4 linked regions of the Homo sapiens genome follow. The protein of the gene in region 1 interacts with the protein of each later gene in a pairwise test. Each region holds a gene or a part of one and is shown in the gene's direction. Other genes may lie near its edges.

Region 1 (7,695 bases):
TGAGGTGGGCAGATCCCGAGATCAGAAGATCGAGACCATCCTGGCTAACATGGTGAAACCCCATCTCTGCTAAAAATACAAAAAATTAGCCAGGTGTGACAGCACACACCTGTAATTCCAGCTACTCGGGAGGCTGAGGCAGGAGAATCTCTTGAACCTGGGAGGCGGAGGTTGCAGTGAGCCAAGATTGTGCCACTGCACTCCAGCCTGGGCGACAGAGCAAGACTCCATCAAAAAAAAAAAAAAAAAAAGAAGCAGAGCAAGTATGCAGGGAAAAGTGATCATGGGGAGCCTCCCTGCAATGTTTGAGCCAAACTAGATATGGGAGGGAGCTGGCCCTAAGAGAAGGGGCAAAAGTGTTCTGGACAGGAGGACCAGCAGACTCAGAGGCTGAGCAAGCAAAGGGATTGGGACATAGCTGGAACATCCATGAGACCAGGAGGCATGACGAGGAGTGGAAAGGGCATGTTAGTTAAGGCAAGAAGAGATGTGGATTTTTTTCTAAGCAGAATCGGTTATCGTTTCTTTTTCTTTCTTTTTAGTTTTTTGTAGAGACAGGATGTAGCTATGTTGCCTCATGTTGGGCATGGTCTCAAACTCCCGGTCTCTGTTATCTTGAACATATACCACAAGGTCCTCTATGAGGTTGATGCACCACAAAAGACTATGGGATTGAAGGGCATTCAGTCAACTGGTCCACCCTGAAATCCTTCTATCCCACCATGGTTCAAGCAGGCGACAAAACACAAAGGCTCCTCTTGGCCTTGACCATGCAGGTCTATACACACACACACACCCCACACACCCCTGCCCCCTGCCCCCTTCCATCTTTTCCTTTAGGTCTAAACACAAGCAGGCTGTCACTCCACCTGCCCCCTTGGTAGTACCTCCAGCTGTAGTCCCGTTATGATCCTGGGTAAAATGGGGTCTACACTGCAGGTTTCTGCATTTTTTAATTTTCATTATTATTATTTTTTGAGATGGAGTTTCACTTTGTTGCTCAGGCTGGGGTGCAGCAGCATGATATCGGCTCACTGCAACCTCTGCCTCCTGAGTTCAAGTGATTCTCCTGCCTCAGCCTCCCAAGTAGCTGGGATTACAGGTGCGTGCCACCACACTTGGCTAATTTTTGTATTTTTAGTAGAGAGCGGTTTTGCCATGTTGGCCAGGCTGGTCTCGAACTCCTGACCTCAAGTGATCCGACTGCCTTGGCCTCCCAAAATGCTGGGATTAGCTGTGAGCCACCGCGCCCGTCCAGGTTTCTGCATTTCTGTTCATGATTTCTCAGCACTTATCCCAACTATAATTTTACTTGCATTCATGTGACTATTTGATTAGTATCTGTTTCCTGAGTGAGTCTTGTCTGTTGACTCTGGTAGGGTAGAGTCTGAGCCGGTCTTAGCCACCAAGACTTCCTCAGCACCTAGCACAGGGCCTGGCCCAGGGTAAGTCACACCCACACCCACACCCCCACACAAGCTTTTTTAAAATGTAAAAGTTTAAATACAAACGGAGAAAGAATATAATGTACCCTCTGTGCCACACATCATACAATTTGAGTGGTCAACTCATTCCTAATATTATTTCTTCTACACTCAACCCAGTGAAGCGAACTCCAGCCATCGTATCACTTGATACATACTTGAGTGATATAGAGTAAGTGAATGAATGACTGCCTCCTACTATAACAGACAAACTGGGGGGCTTAATTCTTGCTCTCACTGATTTTACTGTCCATACTAGACAGACAAGGGAGAGTTGAGGAGGGGCCACTTAAATGAGTCAGTCAGTTTTGCCACCAAGTTAGCAACTCTGATAAAATTTCAGATGAAACTAAAACTATTGTCCAAAGTGAATTTCCTTTTCCTCATATTGACTGGGCTTTAACCCTTCAGTCGTGTCCTTGCCATGGCCACATTCACCAAAAGCCGACTGTAAAGGAAGGGAGGGTTACCTATTTCCCACAATCTCTTTCAATTAAAAGTCCTGAAAGAACAAGTTTCTTTCCATAAAATAAGCCATGTGGCCTTTTACACAGAAAAATAAGGAATGCCTGGAAATTAGTATTACCACTTGCTCCCTCAAGGGCCAATCTACATTACACCTATTTTCTCTATTTTCACATTTATGAGAACTTGTTCCAAATCAGTCTGGTCTTTTTGAAATGCCATTACAGTTTTACATACATTGGACAAAACTGTCATAGACTGTGATGCTCTCGGCGTCCAGCAAAATGAGTGATACTTGTACCCAATGGGTTTGTTTCATGTCACCTGCCCTTCAAGGTCCCAAAAGTGTGCATAAAAATAACAACTTGAAATGCTCACATGCCAGGAAACAACAGGTGCTGGAGAGGATGTGGAGAAATAGGAAAACTTTTACACTGTTGGTGGGACTGTAAACTAGTTCAACCATTGTGGAAGTCGGTGTAGCGATTCCTCAGGGATCTAGAACTAGAAATACCATTTGACCCAGCCATCCCACTACTGGGTATATACCCAAAGGATTATAAATCATGCTGCTATAAAGACACATGCACACGTATGTTTATTGCGGCACTATTCACAATAGCAAAGACTTGGAACCAACCCAATGTCCAACAATGATAGACTGGATTAAGAAAATGTGGCACATATACACCATGGAATACTATGCAGCCATAAAAAATGATGAGTTCATGTCCTTTGTAGGGACATGGATGAAGCTGGAAACTATCATTCTCAGCAAACTATCGCAAGGACAAGAAACCAAACACCGCATGTTCTCACTCATAGGTGGGAATTGAACAATGAGAACACATGGACGTAAGAAGGGGAACATCACACACCAGGGACTGTTGTGGGGTGGGGGGAGGGGGGAGGGATAGCATTAGGAGATATACCTAATGTAAATGATGAGTTAATGGGTGCAGCACGCCAACATGGCACATGTATAGATATGTAACAAACCTGCACGTTGTGCACATGTACCCTAAAACTTAAAGTATAATAATAATAAAAAAAAGAAATGCTGACATGCAATCATACTTAACTATGCCTTTTTTTACTATAAAATATATTCATTACTTGTATTTTCTAAATTTTTTCATAAGCACAGGGAAAAAATTTTAAGCCTTGTCTTTAAGCCTAGAGCAAGGGTGTCCAATTTTTTGGCTTCTCTGGGACACACTGGAAGAAGAATTGTCTTGGGCCACACATAAAATACACTAACACTAACAATAGCTGATGAACTAAAAAAAAAACTCATAATGTTTTTTAAAAGTTTATGAATTTGTATTGGGCCACATGTTAGACAAGCTTGGCCTAAAGATAAGTCACATTTTGGAGTCTGTTCTTCCCCGTGTGTGTATGAGTTGGGGGTGGGGGGAGGGAGGGTGGTGAGCAGCATGATTACAAGTCCAGGCTCCTTAATCAGTGATAGGTTCAAATCTGGCTCTGCTATCTGCCACCCACATAGCCTCAGGCAAGTTGCTTCCCTCCATAAGCACATTTCCTCTTCTGCAAAGTAGGACTGAAATGACTGCCTGATGGGGTGACAATGAGGCTTTAAAAAGACGAAGAGGGGCTGGGTATGGTGGCTCACGCCTGTAATCACAGCACTTTGGGAGGCCAAGTTGGGCAGATCACCTAAGGTCCAGAGTTCAAGACCAGCCTGACAAACATGGAGAAACCCCATCTCTACTAAAAATACAAAAGTAGCCAGGCATGGTGGCACATGCCTGTAATCCCAGCTACTCGGGAGGCTGAGGCAGGAGAATCGCTTGAACCTGGGAAGCAGAGGTTGCAGTCAGCGGAGATCACGCCATTGCACTCCAGCCTGGGCAACAAGAGTGAAACTCTATCTCAAAAATAAAAATAAAAATAAAAATAAATAGATGAAGTGAGGGACAAGGCATGGTGGCTCACACCTGTAATCCCAGCACTTTGGGAGGCCAAGGCGGGAGGATCACTTGAGCCTAGGAGTTCAAGAGCTGACTGGACAACATAGCGAGACCCCATCTCTATAAAAAATTTTAAAATTAGCTGGGTGTGTGACATGTACCTACAGTCCCTGTGGGAGGATCTCTTGAGCCTGGGAGGTCAAGGCTGCAGGGAGCCGTGATTGTGCCACGGCACTCCAGCCTGGGCGACAGAGCTGAGATTCTGTCTCAAAAAAAAAAAAAAAAGGAACTTAGCCCAGGGCCCGTATGCAGCAAGCACTTAAATGGTATAGCTGCTGCTACTCGGGTTATCAAAAAGGAGCTGCAAAAAAGTCTAGGTTCTGCAGGAGAGCCCTTCCAAGAACCTGCCCAGGAAGTGGGTACACCTGTCCCCACCCCCACAGTAGGAGTCAGAATCAGGGACTGGAAGGGATGGGGTTCCTGGAGGAAGCTCACAGCAGCAGCAGCCTCTGAGTCACAACTCAGCCCCTCCCTGGCATATCCCTTTGTTTGCTGGGAGTTGAGCTGTGACTCACAAAGGCTCTGGTCCCGGGCTGGGCCCATGTGACCCAGGGTCCTGACTGCCCTGCCCACAGTCACTGAGAAAATTCTTTGTGCAGGCTCACCTTCCCCTCATCTCCCCCACTCTTCCTGATCCTGCAGCGTCAGATCCCAGCCTGCAGTATCAGACCTCAAAAGGAGCCTCTGGTGTCTTGTGAGTAGTTTACCTGCCGCCCCACCCCCACCCCGAAACACACACACACACATGGGCACACACCACCACCACTTCTTTTTTGGCCTGTGCCTGTTTTTTCACTGTGCTACATTTTGACATAAGTTCAATCTATAAAGAAAAAGTCCAGGAGAGTCCAACTCCTCTTATACTCTTTTTTATTGTGGTAAAATATAATATAAAACATACCACTTTAACCATTTTTAAGTGTACAGTTCAGTGACATCTAGCACATTCACCATATTGTACAACTCTTACCATTATCCATTTCCAGAACTTTGTTGTCATTCTAAACAGAAACTGTGTACCCATTCAGCGGTAACTCCTCCTGCACCTGCCCCTCTCCCAGCCCCTACTGTATTAATACTTCTCTCTCTAAACTTGCTATTCCAGGTACCCCCTGTAAGTGTCCTTTTGTGACTGACTTTTCTCATGTAGCATAATACTTTCATGGATCAGCATGTTGTAGCATGTGTCAAAAATTCCTTTATTTATTATTATTTTTTTTTTTGCAATGGGGTCTGGCCCTGTCATCCAGGCAGGAGTACAGTGGCACGATCATAACTCACTGCAGCCTCAAACTCCTGGGCTCAAGAGATCCTCCTATCTTGGCCTCCCAAAGTGCCAGCATTACAGGTGTGAGCCATCTCACTCAACCAGAAATTCCTTCCTTTTTAAGGCTAAATAATATTCCATTGTATGTACATACCACATTTTGTTTATCCATTCATCTGTCAATAGACATTTGTATTATTTTTACCTTTTGGCTATTGTGAATAACGCTGCTGGGAACATGGGAATGCAAGTATCTGTTTGGATCTCTGCTTTCATTTCTTTGGGTATATACCCAGATTTGGAATTGCTGGACTATATGATACCTCTATGTTTAACTCCTGTTACACTTTTAGGATTCTGGCAGCCACCACAGCTAACTCTCAGTGAGCAGTCTCTCATCCTGTGTTACTCACCACTCTAAGAATTTTTATTAACTCATTTAGTCCTGAGGTGTGGTATAATTATTTTCATCCCCATTTTACAGACAAAGAACCTGAGGTGAGAGAGGTCCTCCTTCTCAGATGGCAGCATCAGTATCTGAGCCCGCATAGGTTCAGATTTAAATTGTTTCTCCGGTTGTGACAAAAACAAGGTGCTGCTCTGCCTACAAGCATTTTCTGCCCTGAATAATGCCTTTGGGAGGGTTTCCACATCTTTCCTTGCTCTGGACTAAGGATCAAGTAAAAAAAGAGAGTGGGGCAGGGATGCTCCACTGGATTGGATCTGTCTAGACTCACTGCTAGCAGTGAGAAATCCAACTCCATCTAGATGGGTGAGAAGGGGGATTTGTAGGAAGATCCCTGGAGCAGCTCAGTCATGTGACTAGATCCAAAGGCAATGTGCCCAACCCTCCCCTCGCAGCTCCACACTCTGGGCCTGTCCTCACTGCTCTAGCGCTGGGTGAGTGCCTTCAAGCACCTTCTCTGCCACTTCTGAGTGGGTTAGGATGACCCTGAGGAAGCCCACAGCCTGGCAAGGGTGGCTTGTGTCTAGCTCCAGACCGGCTACCACAGCCGAGGGGAGGGGAACCATGATAGGCCCAGCCAGGACCACAGCCCCCACTCGGGCTCAGGCTAGGCTCAGGAGCACGGCGGCGGGGGCGGGGGGTGCTCAGGAGCATGGGGAAGCCTTTCAGAGAAGAGGGAAGGAAGCAGGGCAAGTGCCCAGCACAGATGCTGCATAATCTACAATAGCAAAAGATTGGAAGCTGCCCAGTAGTACTGAACAAAACAAGGTTAAATAAAGCTGCTCTAGCCACTCAGCAAAACACTATGTAGCTGTTTAACAAGCAGGAATATCTGGTGGGAATGACAGGACTCGCTGTTTCTCTGTCTACACACATGCACACACACACACACACAACAAACATGCACACACACATACATACACATATGTAATAATTCACAGGTAAGAAAAATATAGGCAAGAATTATATCATAATAGAAGAATCAAATGGCTTTTAATCTGTTTACCAAACTTTTCTTTACGGGTTCAACAAATTATTGTCTGTACCAGGCAAGGCACTGGGGACATGACAGGGAACACAATAGAAGAAAAATCCCTGCCCTCATGGAATTTACATTCTAGTGGGGGAGGCAGATGACAAGATAAATAAGCAAAATACACCTTATATTGGATAACGATAGTGTAAGGAGAAAAAGCAATGAAGGCAAAGGGGAAGTTGGGATGCAGTGGTAACGGTTTAGACACGATGACCAGGGAAGGCTGAAGGAAATGAGGGACCAAGCTCTGCAGATATTGGGAGAGGTGCATTTTGGGCAGCGGGAATAGCAGGTGCAAAGGCCCTGAGGTGCCCACGCAGGGAACAGCATGGAGGTGATGTGGCTAGAGTGCGGTTATGAGGGGGAAGGGCAAACTAAGAGAGGAGTCAGAGAGGAAATGCAGCCAGATCACATGGGGCCTTGCAGCCAGCCACCCTAAAGGCTTTGGCTTTGTTGCAGTGAAATGAGAGCTATTTGAGGGCTTTGAGCAGAGAAGTAGCCAACCCTTCAGAAGGTTCCCTCTGACTCTGAGTTGAGAACAAGCTGAAAGGAGGTAAAGGCAGAGGCTTGGAGGCCGCAGTCATTCAGGTGAGAGGGGAGAATGACCTGGAGGGTGGTAGGAGCGGGAGGGGAGCAGTGGCCACTCTACAAGTAGAGTCTTTTGACAAGTGAAGAGAAGAGAGATACAAAAGTCAAAGATGACGCCCCAGGCTTTGGGCCTGAGCAACCAGGAGGTTGGGGTGCTCCTTAACAGAGATGTGGGAAGAGGATCAGGAGAGTCGGGCATCCTAGAAGCCAGGTGAGACAAGGCTTCGAGGAAGAGAAAGTGACCAACTCCATCACACGCTGCTGGTAGTCAGGAAGGATGGCAACAGAGAACAGGCCATTGGGATGAGCAACCAGGCACTCACTGTAGACCTTGGTAAGAGATATCTGGGGAGAGGGGAGTGGAAGCCAAGCCTGCCTGAAATGAGGGGCTCAAAAGA
Region 2 (8,030 bases), on another chromosome or scaffold:
CCTGATTTATAGCCTTTCCTGATCTCCATGGTGTAAATATTCCCACCGTGGGGACTGGGCTACCAGCATGATGTCACTGAGTGTGGAGTTGCGAGTAGAAATGCAATTGCACACAATTATACAGTATTTCTACCATATAGATAAATGGTGAAAATAAGAGCACAGATAATAGTGAAATATAGTAAAATAATTATGAAGTACTAAGTTTTGAGAATTTATTACCTCTATTTATGTATTAGTCATTTTCACACTGCTATAAAGACATACCTGAGACTGGGTAATTTATGAAGGAAAGAGGTTTAATTGACTCACAGTCCTACATGGCTGGGAGGCCTCAGGAAACTTACAATCATGGTGGAAAGGGAAGCAGGCAAGTCTTACGTGGTGGCAGGAGAGAGAGTGTGTGAAGGAGGAACTGCCAAACACTCCTAAAAGAATCAGGTCTCGGCTGGGCAAGATGGCTCACGCCTGTAATCCCAGCACTTTGGTAGGCTGAGGCAGGTGGATCACCTGAGGTCGGGAGTTCGAGACCAGCCTGACCAATATGGAGAAACCCCGTCTCTACTAAAAATACAAAATTAGCCGGGCGTTGTTGCGGGTGCCTGTAATCCCAGCTACTAGGAGGCTGAAGCAGCAGAATCGCTTGAACCTGGGAGGTGGAGGTTGCGGTGAACCGAGATTGCGCCATTGCACTCCAGCCTAGGAACGAGAGGGAAACTCCATCTCAAAAAAAAAAAAAAAAAAAAATCAGGTCTCATGAGAACTCACCATCATGAGAACGGCATGGGGGAAACTGCCCCCATGATCCAATCACCTCCCTTCCACCAGATTCCTTCCTTGACACATGGGGATTATGGGGATTACAATTCGAGATGAGATTTGGGTGGGAACACAGAGCCAGACCATATCAATTTATAATTTACTTAATTATAAGTTTATATAGATTGTTATTGAAGGCTGTGCTTAATACAGCCTTAATACAGCTGGGTGTAAGAATGCATGGAAATTTGGCCAGGTGTGATGGCTTACTCCTATAATCCCAGCACTTTCAAAGGCTGAGGTGGGAGGATCTCTTGAGCCCAAAAGTTTAAGACCAGTCTGGTAACATAGAGAGACTTCATCTCTACAAATAACATAAAAATTAGCCAGGCCTGGTGGGATGTACCTGTGGTCCCACCTACTTGGGAGGCTAAGGCAGGAGGATTGCTTGAGCCCAGAGGTCAAGGCTGCAGGAAGCCATGTTTGTGCCACTGACTCCAGCCTGGGTGACAGTGAAATCTTGTCTCAAAAAAATCCACAAAAATTCATGGAAATTGAGCAATCAGTTCGTAAGAAAACAACACTAAACACACTAAATCAGTTCTTAAGAACACAACACTAGCACAACACTAAAGGGGACCGAGGCTGGAGAAAATAACAGTCTCCTTTCCTTCTTCCAGCTCTGTCTTTCTCTGACCTCCACACCTTTGCTTATTCTGTGCTCTTAGCAGAAGATGCTGTTCCCTTCCTCACCTCCACTCTTATTCTTTCCATCCTTTCAAGGCTGACTGAATCCAAGCCGTTGTCTCTGCTTGGCTTCCCCTCCCCTTTTCTCTGGGAAGTGCACCCCCTCCACCCACAGGTTACAGTGGGAGCAGCCAGGTTTGTGCAGTAGGACCCTGTCACTCGGGCCAGAGTTAATTAGATAAAGGGTAGGCATCTGATCCAACTTAGAATGTGGACTACAAACAAAGATTCCAGCTTGCTGCTGGTAAAAGCCATTTTCTGGAAAGCAGAAATGCTTGTGTGATGTGAGCAGACAGGCAGAGATGAAAGATGGGGGAGAGAGTACTTTCTGGGTTCCCTTTAGTACTCAGGTCCTGCTTGTGGTCTGATCCTGAGGCCCAGCTGCACCCCTGCCCTAGTGTTCCATGGGATATTTCAGGATCTCCTGAGAGTGCTCTCTCAAGTAATCCCTTGTATGAAATCCCTGTCTCATCCTCTGCTTCTAGGGACAAACTACAAGGCATTCGATGCTCAACAAATACTTGTGCTGATAACTTCTCTTTCTGAAGCCAGCTCCAGGAGAGGTCTGTAATCAGAAGAGCCCCTGAACCCTGAAGCCTCCTGGGCTGCCCAGCCCAGGCATCTCCTCTGTGAGTTTTGCGACACCCTTCTAGTCATTTAACGAGCCTCATTGGCTTTCTCTGTGAATACGATGGAAGATGGCCACCTCAAAATGGCAGCCTTGGCCTTCAGAGATCATTGGTCCTCACAGACCCAGTTAATTAACCATGATTGTCATGTCTCAACTTCCAGCTCCAAATTCTAATAGTCCAGCTTTTTTCTGCCGTCCACTCCTCATGCTGTCAACTGTGTTGTGGGGGAAGGTTACAGTACAAACCTGGGTGCAAGTGAGGGCCATCCCCTTGGGTGGGAAGAGGCGTTCTCAGAGGAGAGAGCAGGTACCCCCAGATTGTCTAATGCCTGGCCTGTGTGTGGCCTTCATTTCTCCCCAGCCTCACTCTGGGAAGGAGGTGGTCTTCTGGCAAAAGAAGATATCAAAGTTCTTCCATCAGAGGAGATCCTTATCAGCAAGACATTCACTCTGAGGTGAGGATCCAGGACAAACAGGCCTTACCTTACCTAGATCCAATGGGGGGAGAAGTACAAAGAGGTATCTAGAAAGGAATGAAGACAGGATACCAAGAAGACTTCTAGGCATCCATGAAAGGCAGACTTGATATATCCTGCCAGCTATAAAATACACATGTTGAGTCATAAAGCAAAGCACCAGGAGATTTCTAGAAGTGTTCCTAGAGGAGCACTCCCATGTAAGTATTGGTTATCATCATCACAATCATCATCAATCAATCATCATCATCATTATCTTCATTATCATTTCTAATGATTCCTGGTGATACCCTGTTCCCATGTTCCTCTCCAGCCACCAAATGGAGCAATTACAGGGTTATGGGTAGGCATCTGACCCAGCTTAGAATATGGAACCTTAGATCTAGCTTAGAATGTGAACCCTTTTGCTCTCCTGGCCTCAGTTTCTCCATCTCTAAAGGGAGGAGTTGGAGCAGACATTCTCCAATGTTTCCTCCATCGTGATGTGGTATTCTCCAGTTCTATGGGGACACAGATTCAGAGTTCCACCTCCCTTTGTCTGAGAGCAGTTGCTGGGGCTGGAAATGATATGTTAGATAATTCCAAGGCATGTGTATGCCGGGGCTTGTAATCAAAGATTCCAGAGCCAAATAAGCCTGTGTTTTTGCTTTTCTCCCCAGCAGCCTTGCATTGGGCCCCAGGCAGCCTCTGGAGAAAGCAGAGAGTAGCAGAGATGGTGTGAGCCTCCCTGCGGGGTGGATACCTTGCTTGTATTCTCAGAGAAAGTGGAACTGGGCAGAATTTCCCAAGCCAGGAAAGGTGGCAGAGTGTGACATAAGACATTGAGCAAAGAAGCGAGGGCCAAGGACTCAGGCATAGAAGAGTAGACTGCACAGTATCAGTAGTGTGACCTCCAGAGAGTACTTAACCCTTTCTGTGGGCTTGGCCTGCTCATCTGAAAAATACACATGGTAATGCCTCCCTTAGGAGGCCAGGTAGGGAGGTGAGAATTAAAGTCGGTAATACGTGGGAAGCCCAGAGCATGGCATGAGGCATTCAAGAAATGGTTCTTGTATTTACTGGTGTTGAACAAAGAGAGAATGGCAGGAGGAAGAGCCAGGGTGAGATTCCCTGGGTCCTGTGGCTTCCCTGGCTGCTATTCAATGGAAAAACCAGGGAGTGAGCACTGTGCTCTTGGCTTCTGTGCTACTTAAACAACAGCCTTTTCTGCTCTGATCCCCAGCACCCGGCAATTACTGACTCTAGTACATTTTACCTTGTGTTAAGAGGGAGCTTTACCCTGGCTGAACATGGGGCTGCTGCCAGCACCCAGGCTGGGAATGGACATCTCTGTCATGTGGTGCAGTCTCCTGTGGAGTGTGTGAATCCTTCCAAACCGGAGTCACGCGGCAACTCCAAAAGTCCTGGGAACTCATGTGTGCACCAGGACTGCTGGGAGGCCGTCTTATGCCTTGCTGCATTATAAACGGCTATCGTCTCAAATGCATATGAGATGTTGTTGAAATCAACAAAGTATTACATTTGCTTAAAATTGACCTTGCACTCATCTTTCTACCCAATGTGGATTTCCTCAATCTCCTAAAACAGTATCTGCCATGACACTAATAAGAACATCCCTTCCGTTTATGCAGAAGCCACGGTCCCTGTCATTGTGCTGAGAGTCTTTTTCTCACTGAGTCTTCTCAACCGCCCCATGAAGCGGCAATTCAGGATGCCCATTTGACAAACGAGGAAACGGAGACTTAGACATGTGAGCTCGCTTGCCCAAAGTTACAGGACTAGTCGATGTCTGGGGTTCCAAACCAGGCCTTCTGACTCCGAGGCGCCTGCTTAATGGTCCACTTTAAGGACCAGGGATGCACTTGGCATTTTCGTTACTTCATTCGGAATGAGCTGGGAATCGCTCTTCCTCCTTATTCCCTTCCGTGGGAGGGAATCTCCCCTGCTTTGCATGCAGCCTATGTCACTCTTCGAGGGCTTTGCCTCCTGAAGTCCGTTCTCTCCAGGGCTGAAATCTGCCTCCGCTGGTGCTAGTTGAGCATTGCTCGCTTGCCCGTCCCATCTGAGCTCTTTGGCCCCAGCCCAGCTCAGGAGCTGCCCTGGGTCTCCTCCCCGACCCTAGGCCTCTTCAGATCTCCCCTCCGTGCTCCGGGCCTCAGTTTCCTCCAGGGGAAAGCAGAGGGCTTGGTTTGGTGCCTTCCTGCGAGGTGAAGCGAGGGGTCCCCCTGGACGAAGGCGAGCTTGGAGCCACCCGCCCAGCAGCCGACGGGAGGGCCTGGCGCTCCTCCCCCACCCGCCTGCCCGGCCGCCCCGCCCCGAGGGCGGCTCCCGCCCGCGCCCTGCCCACCCCGGCCGCGCGCACCACAACGCCCCCGCCCCGCCGCCCGGAACCAGCTGAGCGCAGCTGGACCCAGCAGCCGCTGTCTCCAGTGCCGCAGCAGCAGGTAGGGGAGGCGCGCGGCCCCGGCCCCGGGCATCTGGGGGTCCCGGGCTGATTTGAGTCCTTCCTCTCCCTTCCTTCCCGGTCCTATCTCGCCCGCGCCTGGAGCTCGGCCCGGCCGCGGGGGCATCGCTGGAAAAGGGCTTCCTCGCTCACTTTTCCCGTCTTCCAAGGGACCAAAGAGTGTGGATGGGAGTTGGGGGATGGGGAGACGCCGGAGCAGGAGAGGAGAGGGGCCAGGCCTCCACCCCGTGATTCCACTGTGCTGCTAGCACCTGAGCTAATAACCTCGACCCCGCCCCCGGGATGGGGGAACTGGCCCGGGGTCACCCCTGCACTTGGGTTGTCTGACCCGGGCATGCAGGGGACCACCAGCTACGGTCTGGGCGGTGACTCTGCTGGGGAGTCCACTCAGAGGACCCTTGCCTCCTGGACGATACCTGTGCCTGCTCTCCTCTCCAGCTGCTTCCTCTTTCTGGGGACTGTTAGAAAGTTCTTCCTTACACTGTCTGAAATCTTCAGGCGCCTGCTACCTGTAGGTGCTGGCTTCTCCCCGGCCCTGCAGTGTTCCCTTCCCTGACTCACACGGAAGCTTCTTCTGGAGTTGAAGACAGTGATTGGAACCCCTTCTCCCTGAGCCCCCATGTCTTCTGGGGTCCAGCCCCCCAGAACCTAAATAACAGCAACTTCCCTCTGGTCCAGTGCAGGCTGGCTGGTCTGGGCAGTGCCCAGGGGGAAGCCCCAGTCCTTGGAAGGCTGGGGGCTGGGGGTGTGGGTGAGCAGGAGACATTGGCTTTCTTCCTAGCTCCTTGTCTGCCCAGACATCTGTCGCTTTATCCTGTCTTCACACCCTCCTCAGAGCATGGAAGGGAGCTTTAAAACACCCAGAACTCATTCTGGGCTGTCCTGAGGGTAATTGGACTTTGTGGAAGGCGGGGCCTCTGGGGAGGTGCCTTTCGCTTTTGTTTGGCATCTGGGGACTTTTCAAACACTTAATCCTGTGTGTCCTGTTCTCCCAGGACCACATTTCTGACCAGGGCACCAGGACCTCTCACCGCTCTGCCGTTTACAGCGACCATAGCTTGCTAGAATCTTACCCCATCTCCATTTCCTCCATTTCACAGTTGAGAAAAGTCAAGGACCCAGAGAGTTTATGATGGGCTAATTGTCACACAGTGAGGCAGGGTAGGGCTGAGACCCAATTCCGGTCTGCCGTTTGCGGACTCCTTGCTGGGAGGGACTCTAGCCTCCTTCTTGGGTGTTCCGTTTACTAAAGGGACAAGCATTCCCTGTACATACACACTTGGGGGTGCTGGTTGGTGTTTCTTGGGGCTGTTAAGGGGGAGAGGCTTGGAAACAGAGGAGGAAGGATGGGGGTGGGAACGGTCGGCTTTCAGCTCCTTTGAAACTCCATTTTTCTTTCTGGGGCCATGCTATTTATAAATGCCAGGGAAATTGTAAACAGCCAGGGGAGCTTGGGTTGGCACTCGGTGAGTTACACAGCAGCAAAGAAGGTTTCTGTGTGAATCAGGGGAGGAAAGTTTACTCCAGAATTTTCCACAGTCCTTTTATTAGGGACTAACATGAGCCTGGAAACAGGCTGCTCCCAGGAGGGGTGGCTGCAGGGTTTGCCCCGCATGGCATTTCCTTCCTCCCCGCCTCCCTCCTTTCAGCACTTCTCTGGGCCTGTGTTCTGTGCCTTGCCCTGCGAGGGGCCAAAGAGCCTTGGAAGAGGACAGAGCTCTCTGTCCTCAAGATGCTTGCCATCTATACTGTTTGACACTTTTGTGCCATATTAAGAGTGACTTCAGCCTGCAAGAGGAGTGACTAATTTTGTCTAGGTGAGCCAGACCTCAGAATGAATAATCATTTACCAGGAGAAACAGGAGTTGGGGGAAAAGACATTCTGGGAAGCAGGAACCACTAGTGCAAAGGCACTGAGATTTTCTGAGCCATCCATGTGGCTAGAGTGGAGGATGGGAGAAGGGCGGGGTGGTGGGAGGTTGAGAATCTAAATGAAAATGGAACTAGATTATAAGCTAAGGGTTTGGACCTCATCCTGAAGGCAATGAAGAGCTGAGAAAGGGTTTTGACAGAGCAGTGATTTTTAAAAACTCGTTATTCTGAATGGCTGATGTAGGGGATGCATTGAACGAGGCTGATCTGGAGGCAGGAAGGCCCTGAGGAGGCTGTTGCATGATTCAAGTGAAGTAGATTGCAGGTCTGAACTAGAGCAGTGGCCACTGGGATGGGTCAGAGCAGCAGATTCTGGAAGCCCAGCTGAAGGTCTCAGAACCTGCTATAAATTTCATCTAAAAGCAGACAACAGGCTAGACCTACTGGAGAAGGTTGCTAAGGTATTCAGCATTGTAACTTTTTTTTCTTTTTCATGAGTTTTAAAACAAACAAAAATTGTTAAAGAATCCCTCCAAGCCCGCCTCTTTCCCCAGAGGTCGCCACTGTTAACAATGGTGTGTGCACTCCTGCCAAACACGTTGATTGGATGCCTTCACTTTTAGCCATCCAGTGACAGTGGGTCACTTTCCCCTACTCCATGTGAATAGTTTGGGTCATTTGTGATGTGGGTCATAGAGATGATTTCTGCTTGGTCTATGGTACGTTGCTGAGACACTGAGCTCTGGTTTTCTTTAAGAAAACTTTTACATCCTGTGTCTGCGGCCTCTGGGTGTGTATATTTGCTTATCAGAGACCACAGGTGTGAGAGAAGTTAGAAGCACTGACTTGGAAATGGACCCCCAGTCTTGGTTCTTTGGGTGACCTTGGGCAAATCCTATCTCTCTGAGCCTCTGGTTCCTCATGTGTAAAATGGAGAGATGTTGGTTTGCATGATAATAATAAAAAGCTATCTTTTAACTGGGCATGGTGGCTCACACCTGCAGTTCCAGCATTTTGGGAGGCCGAGTTGGGTTGATGGCTTAAGCCAGGAGTTTGAGACCAGCCTGGTCAACATGGTGAA
Region 3 (7,195 bases), on another chromosome or scaffold:
GCCCCGGCCTGCCTCGCTGCTGAGACACGCGCCTCACTGTCTCTCTGAGGAGGAGGGCGAGCAGGACCGACCTCGGGCACCCGGGCCCTGGGACCCCCTCGCGTCCGCAGCAGGTGTGCAAAGGGAGGCAGCCGTGGAGCAGGCGCAGAGTGAGACTTCTCTGGGTGCCAGAGGACAGCGAGGACACAAACCGCGCCTGGGCTGCTGTGTTCTGACCTGAGCGGGCGTGGGCGGTCGGGCGGGGCGGGAGGAGGTAGCCTCGCTCTGCTCCTCTCCCGCTCGCGGCGCCCCACGCCACGGTGGCTCCGGGCCCCCCACCGTTAAAACGGGGTCCGCGTGTCCTGTACGCAGCGTGTTGCTCCGCAAAGGATGACAGAGCTGCCACGGCAGTGCGAGGTGCTGCTTTTACCGTAGACGTGCCTTTTCGTAGCTTTCAGCGTAGAGCTTGAGGCCTGTGGCTTAGGCCGGGTGGTCTCGTGCTGGTGGGGTCTGCGTTTGCCCCTGCCCCTCCGTCAGCTTCACCTTCTCGTGCCTTCTTCTGCGCTGGGTGCAGAACAAAAGACCCCCTCAAGTCAAGCCTCCTTGTGAAGCGTAGTCTGCCCGCCCACCCCCCGTGGGGTTCTTGGCCGCCCTGCCCTCCTCCCACCTGTTAGGGAGCCGGATAGTCTCTGAAGTGAGTGCCCCGGAGAAGTTCTGGGTCACCCTGAGGACGTGCTGTGCATGTAGGCTTGGCCCTGACTGCGTCCTAAAGCCCAGGGTCCATGTAGTGTGAATCGTGCGTCAGTTGGAAGTATTTGTGCCTCTTCTGGTTCTTATCACCGCACGCGGTGAGGTGACCCCAGCCGCTCATGTCGTGCAGGAAGACATGGATGGTTGATCCCTGGGTTTGGGGGACCGAAGCGGATGTCGTGAGGTTACTTCTGTGGACTTGGGCCGAACAGCACTGTCTAAGCAGGACATGAAAAGAAGGGGGAAGCGTCTCTCCTTTTCCCTTCATGGAACTTTCCATTGAAAAATTAGCCCCTTCCAGTCCTTCTCGGATGAAGCACAGTTGCCGGTTACGCTTCCGAGGAGGACGGAAGGTGCACCCCCAGCCGTGAGAGCCTCAGGATGTGCCGCCTGTGGGTGGGCACGGCAGCCCCTCCAGCCGGCCGCCCACCTGCCGTGCTGCGCTCACCTTTGCTGTGTGAGTCTGTGCTGTGTCACTGAGTGACAGACAGAGGCAGTTGCAGGCTGCATGCACCCAGAAAGAACTCCCCCTGCACTAAGCGGGCATGGGGGAGGCTCCCCAGGGTCCCTGCACTGAGCGGGGTGGGGGAGGCTCCCCACGGTTCCCTGCACTGAGCGGGGTGGGGGAGACTCCCCACGGTTCCCTGCACTGAGCGGGCGTGGGGAAGGTTCCCAGGATCCCTGCACTGAGCGGGGTGGGGGAGACTCCCCACGGTTCCCTGCACTGAGCGGGCGTGGGGAAGGTTCCCAGGATCCCTGCACTGAGCGGGCGTGGGGAAGGTTCCCAGGATCCCTGCACTGAGCGGGCGTAGGGGAGGCTCCCCAGGATCCCTGCACTGAGCGGGCGTTGGGGAGGCTCCCCAGGGTCTGTTGTGCGCTCCTGGTACTGGAGGGTCTGATGGCCGTAGGGAGGGTGCACTGTTTGTCGATGGGTCTTTGCAAGGTGCAGGATAGAGCAGGGTTGTAGCTGTAGTGTCCCTGAACCACTGGGGTTAGGAGGCCACCGGAAGCCTGGCCTGCTAGGGGCCTTGTGATTTCGCAGGCCCCGAGAACGTGGTGTGCAGGTGCGGGCCGCCTGGGGGAGCCATGTTTAAAGTGCGGTGAGGCTCCTGGAACGGCACCCACCGCAGGCCCGAGGCCACACCTGTATGTCAGAACTGGGCGGGTCTTCTCCTCCCAGGCCTTCAGCGCCTGTGGCTATGGCTGTGGGCGGGACTGATACGGGCAGGCAGGCGCTGTTCTCCCCACGTATTCTCGGCTTCCCCGCCATACACCGTTTCTGAGTGGGGAGAACTGGTTGACTGCTGAATCCCAACACAAATCCTTAGAGCAAAGAGGCCAGTGATGGCTTTTGTTTCTGCCCGGATCCTCTTTGTGGATCTTCCGTTTTGCGGCTTTTCCTCTCATTTGTTTCCTTTTTTTAATCGCTTCATGAGATCTTGAAGATACCAAAGTAACCATCAAAGATTTAAAGACGTGATTTTTATACAAATATATAACGAACACGTCAGAGACTTTTACTTAAGTTCTTACTGAGAGATGACAAAGCTGACTCAAAGGATGAGTCAAGAAACCGCTGCAGAGTTGGAGACAGAACTGGAGTGAAATTGCAAAGCAGGGTGGTTTTGGTCTCTGCAGAGGCCATTTGCGACTCACTCACCAACTCCGGTGTCAGGGTGCTGGTGGGTGACAGGGAAGAGGTTGAGCAAGCCTCCGCCCCTGCAGGCTCGCTCATTATACAATGAGCACCTGCACCACCAAATCCGAACAACTGTACATGCTTACAGAGAAGGGCACGTGCTAGTGTGGGAGTGACAAAGTCACACGGGTGCAGACCCCTTAGCTCCAGCCTGCTGGGTGTTCTGACGAATGGACTTTGTAGCGATAACACAGGCTCCTGAGTCAGGATACTGGTTTGCTGCATTTCTGCGTCACTGAAGGTCTCGCTTTCCCCGAAGCCCCTTGTCACAGAAAACCCATGACTCTTGGCCAGGCCTCTGGGTGCCTGGAAGATCCCACTATCATCTTTTTGTGGGATTTGCATGTCCTGGTCAAGGTTCCTGTAAAAGGAATACAGTGAGGAGACCGGCCACCCGACAGTATTGATGGCCCCCACTTTGGCCTCCAGCCGTCTGACCCGTCCCTGAATCGAGCAGGTCCTGTCGGAGCTCCCAGGAGTGAGCGAGCTTCCACTCACAGGGTCACAGCCAGGTGTGCAGCCCCCAGGCCTGGGCGGTTCTAGGGCATGATTTTTTTTAGGCTGGAAATGAGCTCTCACTTGAGATGCACCCCTCAAAATACTGAACGTACTGCTTCTGTGAGAATTTCCCCTCCTTGTGTCTGGTGTGATTGACAACGGGTGCAGCCAGTGGAAGCAGGAATGTCGGGGAGCGCGGGGTGCAGGGGGTGCCCTGTCACAGTCAGCGGGGAGCGCCTGTCCCTGCTGCGTGGTGTGGGGTTCCCGTGGCTGGCATTTGCTGCTGTGTGGAGTCCTCAAACCCAGCGCTCGCCCTGCCTGCGTTCAGAGGACAGAGGCACCACCGGGAACCCACCGGATCCTCACTCAGGCTTTGGAAAGGCCGAGTGATGTTTTGTGTTTGTGAATTCCACACATACTGTAGGAGTATCAAGAACACGTAACTGTTAAAAAAGGAAAAGTAAAATTACTGAACAGGAAAGAAAGAATAAAGCAGGTCCTTTGTTTTTTTGGCTGAGGAAAGCAGCCTGCCCTGGAACGCTGTAGAATGTCTCCCTTTTTGTGAAGCACAGCATGGAGCTCTCGGAACTGAAGATGGGAATCTAACCCTGCCCTCAGCTTTCAACAGCTCGAAGTTTGTCTTTTTAATGAAACTAATTTGTGTATTTATACTTAAGGGTTTTCAAGTCCTTAAACTTGATAAGAAAACTTAAGTCGTTTTCTATCAGGACAAGTTTTTAAGTAGTCACTGGTGGGAGAGCGTGCCTCTGTGGACTGTGCCCAAGGCTGGCGGTCCCACGAAGTCCCAGAGCCCGCGAGCCGGTGCCCAAGGCCATGTCTGTGATTTGCAGGAGGTTCAGGTGACAGGAAGGCCTGCTCTGTTTTTCTCACTTCAATTTTGGACTTTTTTTTTTTTTTTTTTTTTTTTGAGACAGTCTCGCTCTGTCGCCCAGGCTGGAGTGCAGTGGCGTGATCTCGGCTCACTGCAACCTCTGCCTCAAGGGTTCCAGCGATTTTCCTGCCTCACCTCCCCAGTGGCCGGAACTACAGGTGCTTGCCACCACTTCTGGCTCATTTTTGTATTTTTAGTAGAGATGTGGTTTCTCCATGTTGGACTGGCTGCTCTCGAACTCCTGACCTCAGGTGATCCCCCCGCTTCAGCCTCCCAAAGTGCTGGGATTACAGGCGGGAGCCACCGCGCCCGGCAATAGTGGAGGCTTGAAGAACACCGGAAAGTGGTTTCCTTGTACCGGACCCGCCCCTCCCCCACCATCCCGGCAGCCCCAGGGCGGGTGAGGGCGACTGCAGTGTGGTCACCTCAGGCTTTCCGTCCCTAGCTCATAAAGGCCCAGTGGCAGCAGTTGCTTTAAAGGAGCTCCGTTACTCCCTTTGTTCTGGGGTCTTGGTAAAGTTTGCTTTGCTGAAGCGGAGGAACCGCAGGCGGTGCTGACCCCCCCACCCCGCCCCCATCCCACGGGGTCCCTTGGGTCCCGGGGCACGAGGCTCCTCTGAGGGACACGGCCTCCAAGAGCTGGCTCTGCCCTGGCCGCCCTCCACAGTCACGGCGGCTCCCCGCATGCTCCTCGGGACGGAGATCTCCTGGCTTCCTCCCGCTTCCTTTCCTCTGCGTTTTCCGCAGAGCCGCCTCCCTGCTTTGGAAGCAGGTACTCAGCGGCCTCTGCAGCCGCCAACGGCACACAGGCCTCTCTCTGTTCGTTCTTTCTTTCCGTAACCGTAGCTTGAGGCACATTTCCTAAATATGCAGCATGGAACGCTTGGCGGTTCTGAACGCGCATCTCGTGCTGCTCCTGTAGGGCGGTTAGGACGCGCTCCTCTGGCGAGGAAGGTGGCAGCCTCCACTGTGCACGGGTCACAGGCGAGTGTGGTGTGGTGTGGTTGTGGGTGGGGTGTGGACTGGATCTGCAGGCTTGTCCCTCTCTCGTGGAGAGCTGTCGGGGTCCAGGCAGTGCTCAGTGGTGAGAGCCACAGCACATTTGAAAGTCCACATGTGTTTGCCCCACTGTGGTCCAGGACATGTGTGAGCCACACTCAGTGGACTTGCACCTGTGACATGTTGGTCAGCGTGGCGGCCGTCAGCTGGGTGTGGAATGCATCTGATTGGAGCCTGGCACCCGGCCTACCATGATTGTGATTCTCTGGGGCGAGTCCTGAGTGTGGGCAGGGCCTCAGGCCCCCAAGAGGGCTGTGAGCAGGCACCTTCCTGTGAGGCACGATGCCACCATGTGAAGTTGTGTGGGTCTTTGGAGAGTTCTGGCAGGTTGAGGGCCTGTGCGTGTGGGACCCAGGCCTGCCCTGCCTGCTGCCGGCCATGTTCCCTCTGCCCAGTCATGTTGACAATTGTGGCCAAATTCAACATCGGGCCTGTTTCCTGCACCCACGTTGGCACACACTGAGTTCAAGACAGTTTCTGCAGAAATGAATCCAGAGGTGTTTATTTCTGGCACGTTGGATCAGACGTTCAGAGGGTGGGCGTCTTTCTCCATGCACTTCAGCTGGATCAGTCAGTGTCAGCCATTGACTTTAGCAACAGGGAAATGAAAGACTTTCCTCAATAAGAAATGGGACTTTCTCACGCTGGATGGCACAGAGCTGGCAAACATGAGGCCAGTCCACACCAAGGCTTTGCCTGCAGAAAGGCTGCACTGTGGCCAGCGGGGGAAGCGGAGGAGACACCTGTGGACACCCTCCCCACAGGTGGGCACACCTTTGCGCAGGCCCAGTGTGCGTTCTGAAGGAGAGCCCAGGGTGGGGTTCCGGGACTGAGGTGCAGCCGTGTCCAGGGTGGGCTTCTAGCTCTGCCGCTGGGCGGAACTGGGGTAGGTCCCAGGGTGGGGTTCCAGGACTGAGGTGCAGCCGTGCCCAGGGTGGGCTTCTAGCTCTGCCGCTGGGCAGAACTGGGGTAGTCCCAGGGTGGGCTTTTAGCTCTGCCGCTGGGCGGAACTCGGGTAGGTGGGAGTCCTCACTTCTCTGCAGGGTGGTGAAGCTCTCTGGGTAGTGTGAGCAGTTCTCAACGTGCACCTTGGAAAGCGCCCGTTTTGAGGTTTAGCTGTGGCCAAGATAGATGACTTCATTTTGTTGCTTTTTGTTCTTAACATGGGGAGATATTTAGAAAACATGTTTGGCTCTTGCTGGGGAAGCAGTGCTGTTCCGTACAGTGTTTTACAAGCCGTGTTTCCTTAGGATTGAAAGAAGGTGGCAAGAGGAAGAAGCAGAAGCAGAGAGAGGAGTCGAAGAAGAAGAAGTCGACCAAAGGCAATCACTAGACCGGACTTGAGGCACGCGGTGCACCCCCAGACGCTGGCGCTCCACCGTGCTCGGCATGCGGTCGTGCACACGCGCTAGGTAGCAGCGTCGGTCAGGACTGTCTCGAGGCCACACTCGCTCGGCAGGATTATGCGATCACGGATCAGTCAGAGCAGGGTCAGGAGACGGGGCTGACGGCACGGGTGGCGGGGACAGACGTTTGGGACTTGGCCGCGACTCTCTGCTTCTCTCCAGCTCTCAATCTGCTGCATTTTCCTCTAGTGCTTCCGGATCCTCTTCATTCTTTTCGGCTACTCAACCACTCCGCATGCTGCTGGAATATTTCTGGCTTTAGAAGTACAGGAGGGCGCAGATGGCTAACTGAGTAACATTCATGAAATGAGGCTTTCTGTGGCGGCGTAGTGTTTGGAATTAGAAGGTAATTCAGTAGAGTGTAACTTAGAGAATATTGCAAGTGACACATTGAATCCTGCCCGTCAGGGCACCTTTTCCTCAGAGCAATCCGGCCACACGAATAGAAGGCTGTCGTGAATCACATCAGATGTAAAATCATTCCTTCTGTTTACTCTTTTAATTTTCATCCTTTGCAGGTAGTGCAAATTCAACTTCAAATATGGTGTAGGTTTTGCTAGATTCCATATTTTTTTCTTGGATTTTTGCTAATTATTTTTAGCAAAAAATTTTTGCTCAGTGGCACTCTCCCTAGTGTCCATGGGTTAGGGCCATGCTGGGGAAAACGGGCCGGTATTTACACACGCGCAAAACACCCAGAGACGGCACAAGGAGGTTGAACTCATGTTTCAGTTCGCGAACATTGACTCCTTACGAAAGTCACTTCATTCTAACTAGATGCGCCCACTTCCGGTCATTATTTCGTTTGCATGATGTATTGCTTCTTCACGTTTTGTTTTTATTGAGCACGGAGTAGAATTCCAGGGCTGCCTTGACTTCTTCCCTGCATGCTCCCTCCCAGTGACTTTCCTT
Region 4 (7,195 bases), on another chromosome or scaffold:
ACTCAGCTTGTATATATACATTTGGCTTTCATACATGTAAAATATATCTTGCCTGTTTATGTCCTTCCATGTTGATGAAGATAATAATAACTGATGTTTACCAAATGCTTACTATTTCCCATGCAGTGTGCTTAGGACTATACATGCTTTACCTTCATATTTCACAAGATCTCTGTAGCTGTTGTTATTCCAGTTTTAGCGATAAAGAGACTGAGGTATGCAAAAGTGAGTTGAGTGGTGGAGGTCTGTTTGATTCCTGGTCCCTCACAATTAATTAATTAACTTGTAGAGATGCCATTTCACAGTGTTGCCTAGGCTGGTCCTAGGCTAAAGTGATTCTCCCGCCTCAGACTCCTAAAGTGCTGGGATTACAGATGTGAGCCACCACGCCTGGCCCCTTACTTATTTTATTCTTTTAGTTTTTTATTATAATTTTGGTCTACAGAAAAGTTTCAAGATGAGAACTAAAAATTCCTGTATGCCTTTCATTCCAATTTCCTACATATTAACATTTTTACCATATTTTTGTTCCTCACATTCTATGTGTGTATATACATTTCTCCCCCAAACAGTTTGGGTTATTTGCAGAAATAATGTTCACTATGCTAAAGTACTTCAGTGGATATTTCTTAAAAATAAGGATATTCTCATACTTAACAGTTCTCAAAATCAGGAAATTCATAATGCCCATGATATTCGTCTTACTCAGGTTGGCATGAGATGTGCTTCCTCACTGGACTTCCTCTACTATTTTATCCCTCTGTCTTGTACTTAATACTGCCATCAGAGCTAATTTTGCAAAATGCATTCATGGTTGCCCATTGTTTACTGAAAGACATTCAGATTCCTCTGTATACTATTCAAGATACCTTCTTTTTTTTTTTTTATCTGTCTAGCACTCTCTGTGGGTAAATTTATTAGAAAAGTAGCAATAATTACATGTGCTTTCTGTAGTATACTATGGTGTTCTCAGATTATAAATTTCATTGATAAAATGACTATAAATTCTTAATTCTGAAATCTGGTTGGTAGACGTTTCTACTTTATTTTAAATTTATTTTAACCTTACAGAAAACTTCCAAAATAGTAGTACAGAGAATTTATTTATATCGCTTCCCTTGCTTCCCCTAATGTTAACTTATAACTATAGTATAATTACCAAGAACAGGAAACTAAAATTGTTACAATATTATTAACTAAACTACTAAACTTACTGAAATTCAACCAGTTTTTCCACTAGTGTACTTCTGTTTCAGCATCCTATTTGGGATTCACAGTGCATTTGTAATTTCTCCTTAATATCTTCCAGTCACAGTTATTCAGTCCTTCCTTTCCTTGGATAACCTTGATACTTTTGAAGACTATTAAATGATTGCAGAATATTCCTTAATTTGGATTTGTCACTCCAAATTAAAAAAATATTTGATCTGACTTTTTAAATGTTTTTTAAAGCTACTTCAGAATCTTGGTTCAGCAATTTGAGGTACAGCTTCAGCAGTACAGGCAGCAGATTGAAGAACTAGAAAACCATCTTGCCACTCAAGCAAATAATTCACATATAACCCCTCAAGGTAACATGCTTACTGTGGTAATTTTTTTTGAACTTTTGTTTGTAGGAGATAGATGTGGTTATATAATAGGTATTTTGGATAACTACTGGTAGCCCCTTTAAGAAAATTTCCTTAAAAGTCATTTACTACTCCTTTATTCCCTATAAATATAATATGCTTTATTATATGAATTGTTACTGTGGTAACAAGGACAGAAATCTTAGGGCCTTCCCCCCAGATTTCTTTTGTAGACATTCAGTCTGCTACTCTGTGTGTTCTCTGGCCATGAGAACGTTGATAGAGTTTTTTTCTCCTACACGTTAACTGTGCCAAAAATTGGACTCAAATAGAAAAATAAAATGGATTGTGCTATATATATGTATATATTTGGGTGATAATGTAATTTTCTTTTATAGATTTGTCAATGGCTATGCAGAAAATTTATCAAACATTTGTAGCTTTAGCGGCACAACTTCAGTCTATTCATGAAAATGTAAAGGTAAGTTTTCATTACCCATTTATCTACCTGGATATGTAGACCCAAGTATTTGTTCATCTGGGGACAAATGTGTCCATGCTTGATACAGAAATAGCTAAAATTACATATAAGTGAAAAGATGAAAACTACTATAATCCATAACATACCCAGACATAACGATTGATAATACCTGTTCTTTTAAAAAAGATCCAAGTACGCTGTAGTCTGTTATTATAACTTTTTTTTAAGCAGTGCATTGTGAATAACTTTCTATGTTAATACACATATTTCCTGAATATCATTTTTAATAGTTAACATAGGAGTTTGTTGTATGGTTGTACATTGTTTAACCCATTTTCTGTTGGATATTTAGGTGGTTTCTATTTCTTTACTACTATAAATAGCACTATAGAAAATAGGCATTCTTAGTCAGGCACAGTGGCTTACACCTGTAATCCCAGCACTTTGGGAGGCCGAGGCGGGCGAATCACAAAGTCAGGAGTTCAAGACCAGCCTGGCCAATATGGTGAAACCCCGTCTCTACTAAAATTACAAAAATTAGCCGGGTATGGTGGCGGGCACTTGTAGTCCCAGCTACCTGGGAGGCTGAGGCAGGAGAATCGCTTGAACCCAGGAGGTGGAGGTTGCAGTGAGCCGAGATCACACCACTGCACTCCAGCCTGGGCAACAGAGCAAGATTCCATCTCAAAAAAAAAGAAAATAAGCATTCTTAGTAGCAAATGATTTTGTACTACCTTAATTTTATCTGTTTTAAGTGTTTATTGGCCACTGCATTAAAAACCGGCTTACAGCATTTCTCCCTTTTAAATACAGGGAACTGTTTGTGTTTATTAAATAGTGTAAATAAAATGATTTATCACTGAATATTTAGACTGACTCTCGCTTTTTTTTTTTTTTTTTTGAGACAGACTCTTGCTCTGTCGCCCAGGCTGGAGTTCAGTGGCATGATCTTGGTTCACTGCAACCTCCACCTCCTGGGTTCAAGTGATTCTCATGCCTCAGCCTCCTGAATAGCTGGGACTACAGGCACGTGCCACCATGCCTGGCTAATTTTTTGTATTTTTAGTAGAGACAGGGTTTTGCCATGTTGCACAGGCTGGTCTCGAACTACTAAATTCAGGCAATCCTCCCTCCTCGGCCTCCCAAAGTGCTAGGATTTATGGGCATGAGCCACTGCACCCAGCCTGAATATTTTGACTCTCATAATAACGTTAGTTTTAAAAATGTATTTAAGTGAAATGTTCAAGGTAAGTACATCTTTTCTAACTAACTGAGCAAATGTAATTAAACTCTTTAATCTTGGAGTGTATGTGGTCCAAAATACCTTTAAAATTCAAGCAGCGAAACCTGAGTCTAGATAAATTATCAACTGTGTAGAATAGAGTTTAATTGGAATTATCAACATTTTCATTTTTATTTTGATTTCATGCATAGTAACAGGATTTTTTTAAGTAAACCATTTAAATTACACCATTTTTGAAATGGTAGTGCACTTTAGACCTTTTGCTTTAGTAGATTTAAAACTGTAACCCAAATCTTTAAATTTTGTTCTAAAGGAGGAATTTTATCAGATTTAAAAAAATTCTATTAGTCTATAATAAATGTTACTTTAATTTTTTAATAAAATTAATGTATGGCACTTTGAAGTCCGTTGCACAGAATTCTTTTCCTTAATTTTTATTATGAAATCTTTCAAATATACACAAAAGTAGGCTATCATTATACTGAATGCCCAGGTATGACTACCTAATTGCAACCATTATCAAAACCCTGCTGAACTTGTTTTATCAATGCTCCACAGAAGATGCTTTTTTTCCCCCCACGAAGTATTTCAGAGCAAATGCCAGGTGTAAACGTACATTTTTTTTAGCAGCACTGTCTCCTCTCTGGTTTGGAAAATATATCATTTTTGGTAATATGACCATAAAACAGTGAGACCAAGACCACATAAAACTGCCCTAGATCACGTCAAATAAACGTTGTAGACATGAAATTTTGACCTACTCTTTAAGCAACCCAGGAACGAAAGGATATTCCCAAGAACCAAAGAATATTTTATAATCAGATTTGGTATGTTGCCATTATTTTTAGCTTAGTTTAGTGAGCAAACTAAGCTCTAGGTTTCTTTATTTCTTGTAGAAATCTCACAAGACATTTTTTTGTTCGTTTTGTTTTTCATTAGGTAATCTGTTGAAACAGGCGTTAACTATTCTATCCAGCCAGGCCTCAGGAACATTAACACATTTGGAAGTTTTAGCAATTTGTTTTATAAATCATGGCTGATGTCAAGGTTTTTGTTTGTTTGTTTTATTATTTTGTTTTGTTTTGTTGAGAAGGGCTTGCTCTGTTGCCTATGCTAGAGTGCAGTGGCGTAATCATGACTCATTGCAGCCTCAATCTCCTGGGCCCAAGCGATCCTCCCGCCTCAGGCTCAGCCTCTTGAGTAGCTAGGACTACAGGCATGCACCACCACACCTAGCTAATTTTTTAACTTTTTGTAGAGAGGGGCACTTGCTGTGTTGTCCAGGCTGATCTTAACTCCTGGCCTCAAGGAGTCCTCCTGCCTAGACCTCCCTAAGGGCTGGGATTATAGGTGGGAGCCACCGCGGCCAGGCTGTTTCTTTTAACTAATGGTCTTGGTCTTAAGTTTCTAAGGTGGATCATTATTTTCCATTATCTGAAGTAGAACTAAAATTTATGGGATACTGATGCTTGCCCAGGACAAGGAAGGGTGGATTTGCAAGAGATCGGTAGTGCTTGTTTTTCTTACATCATATGTCTTGATTCTGGCTTTGTATCTTCCCCAGTATCCAGTTCTTGGCAGGCCCCCTTTTTTAATACATCATAAATGTAGCAAAGTTTGGAATTGGAACATCAAACACTGACATCCACACAAAAAGGGCGATGATAGCTTTTAAATACTATAAACAACAGTAAGATTTTTAAGTGCTGTATTTGTTATAATCAGAACCTAATGTTTACTAATTTCTGCTAAGAAATGTAAGAAATATGAAAAATCTGTGTCTCTTCAAAAAGTGGTTAAAAACCTATCTAAATTAGGCTAAATCTTCAATGAAAGCATAAAATAATTCTAAAGTGAAACAGAATTGTTGCTGTTGATGGCCTTAATCAAAGCAGATGCTGCATTGGGTAAAAGCAGCTCACTTTATGAACTTGGGAATTTTTCTTACTCTGGAGTTACAAACACTTTTTTTCTTTGAGGCGGGTGGTTGGGTTCATAACTTTAACATGAATCAAGTCTCATTGTACAATGGTCAAATAATAGCAATAAAGTAGAAGCCCTCATCATACCCTCCAACCACTGCTGAGGTGCAACACCTTATTTTAGCATGTGTTACCCAGGCCTTCTAAAAAATGTATTTAAAAGTATGTATATTTAGTGCTGACTTTTTTTTCTTTCTTTTTTTTTTAAACTGTTTTAATCAAAAGGCTATGAAAAGGTTGGACATTTGAGGGGAAAGTTTCTTGAAAAACTGGAATATTTATTTTTAAATTCTTTTCATCCATCCATCTGCACATTGATGGAGTATTTAAATATTACTCTGTCTAAAAGCTTAGCTGATTTATTTTAAACAAGGCCTCACAAAGACAGTATTTTAGGAAGCATATTGTAAAGATAGGGAGTAAACTATTCAAGGGAGCAGTAGAACTCTTGAACTCATCATTTCCTACACCAAAGTGCATTATTAGCACTCTAATTTGCAGTTTGGATTGAATGTATAATATTGGGACTGTCTTTGGTAATTTATGGTTATATTCATCCACATATTAACCATAGTCAATGTGAAACTTCATTTAGCCGTTTTGTTTATTATTCTTTTAGGTTCTGAAAGAACAGTACCTTGGCTACAGGAAAATGTTCTTGGGAGATGCTGTTGATGTGTTTGAAACAAGGCGAGCAGAAGCCAAGAAGTGGCAGAACACACCCAGAGTTACTACTGGACCCACTCCTTTCAGCACCATGCCAAACGCAGCAGCCGTTGCCATGGCTGCAACACTTACACAGCAGCAACAGCCTGCTACAGGTCTGAACGCATTCAAGTTATAGCTTCTTACTGTTCCAATGCAGAACATTTATGTGCGTTTTTATAAGTCTTCCATTTGTGTGAGCACTGAAGAAATTTCTATGAGTAGCTGTTCCAATACAATCTAAAATTGTGATGGACACGATTATAAACATACCTGATAAAAAAGGCAGGGTAGTCTTAGCAATAATTATACATCAATTAGATATTGAATATTGTGAATCTACTTAATGTTATTTGCTGTAATGCTATAAATGCCCTTTAGAACATGGTGTTTCACTAGTGAATTACATTTAAGAATAACATTAGATTCTGAAATCATGACTGTACCATTTATTGTTTTAAAGTCAGAGATCATCCATCCATTCTTTGAATTTTTCATATATGATACTGATAGGTGGTGCATTCTCATTTTCCTCATACATAGTGATTACAAAGTACCCACATTCAGGATGAAGTATGCTTTTATTGACTGAAGGTATGTTGAAGATCAATAGGCTTGTTTGTATGTATGTTGACTGTAAACAGAATACAAGCCCTCTAAACCAAATTTTGAAGATGATACATGCTAGAATTGTACCTTTCCAAGGTGAACAGAACAGCAAGAGCAGGAAAAAGATGTTTTGAGATGTGGATTGCACATTAAGGAGCAACTGGGAAGTTGAACAGATGAAAATAATTGGTGACATGGAAAGCAGATTGTTTTATTTCTTGGTTTAGTTACACTTCTAATTAGAGAAACATTTTTTGTGGTCATTCTACAGTGTTTTATTTGGTCCTGTGTCTTTCGGAGGTTAATAGTTATCTTAATCCTGCCATCCCTTTTGTCAGGTTTGAAGCTTGACATGGAAAAATAGTCTTAATCGATATTGATTTTTTTATTTTAATCATTCATAAATTTCTTAGTAATGCTTACTATTCAATAGCATGTGTCTTTCTGAGAGTTCCATATAGTCCAGTAGTACATTATAATACACACAAAAAAATTAATACATATTTAGATTGCATTCAAGCTACCTATACTAGGGAAGCATTCTCTGGTTTTCACTATTGGCAGTTTAAAAAATTGTTCTTCACATTTGGAGATGACAGAATTGACT

Evidence for each region.
Region 2: the proteins of SPATA12 (region 1) and GSN interact in binary tests that used the Homo sapiens proteins (3 or more experiments, as listed by UniProt).
Region 3: the proteins of SPATA12 (region 1) and DNAJB6 interact in binary tests that used the Homo sapiens proteins (3 or more experiments, as listed by UniProt).
Region 4: the proteins of SPATA12 (region 1) and NUP58 interact in binary tests that used the Homo sapiens proteins (3 or more experiments, as listed by UniProt).

What each region holds. Positions count from the first base shown.
Region 1 is NC_000003.12:57,056,153-57,063,847, forward strand, and holds the start of SPATA12 (spermatogenesis-associated protein 12), read left to right. Parts: upstream 1-4,511; 5' UTR 4,512-4,634; intron 4,635-7,695.
Region 2 is NC_000009.12:121,263,163-121,271,192, forward strand, and holds the start of GSN (gelsolin), read left to right. Parts: upstream 1-4,999; 5' UTR 5,000-5,057; intron 5,058-6,762; exon of another isoform or gene 6,763-6,894; intron 6,895-8,030. UniProt on the Homo sapiens protein: Calcium-regulated, actin-modulating protein that binds to the plus (or barbed) ends of actin monomers or filaments, preventing monomer exchange (end-blocking or capping).
Region 3 is NC_000007.14:157,409,889-157,417,083, forward strand, and holds part of DNAJB6 (dnaJ homolog subfamily B member 6), read left to right. Parts: coding exon 1-113; coding exon of another isoform or gene 114-220; exon of another isoform or gene 221-4,799; intron 4,800-6,127; coding exon 6,128-6,210; 3' UTR 6,211-7,195. UniProt on the Homo sapiens protein: Has a stimulatory effect on the ATPase activity of HSP70 in a dose-dependent and time-dependent manner and hence acts as a co-chaperone of HSP70. Plays an indispensable role in the organization of KRT8/KRT18 filaments.
Region 4 is NC_000013.11:25,325,464-25,332,658, forward strand, and holds part of NUP58 (nucleoporin p58/p45), read left to right. Parts: intron 1-1,452; coding exon 1,453-1,571; intron 1,572-1,966; coding exon 1,967-2,049; intron 2,050-5,893; coding exon 5,894-6,095; intron 6,096-7,195. UniProt on the Homo sapiens protein: Component of the nuclear pore complex, a complex required for the trafficking across the nuclear membrane.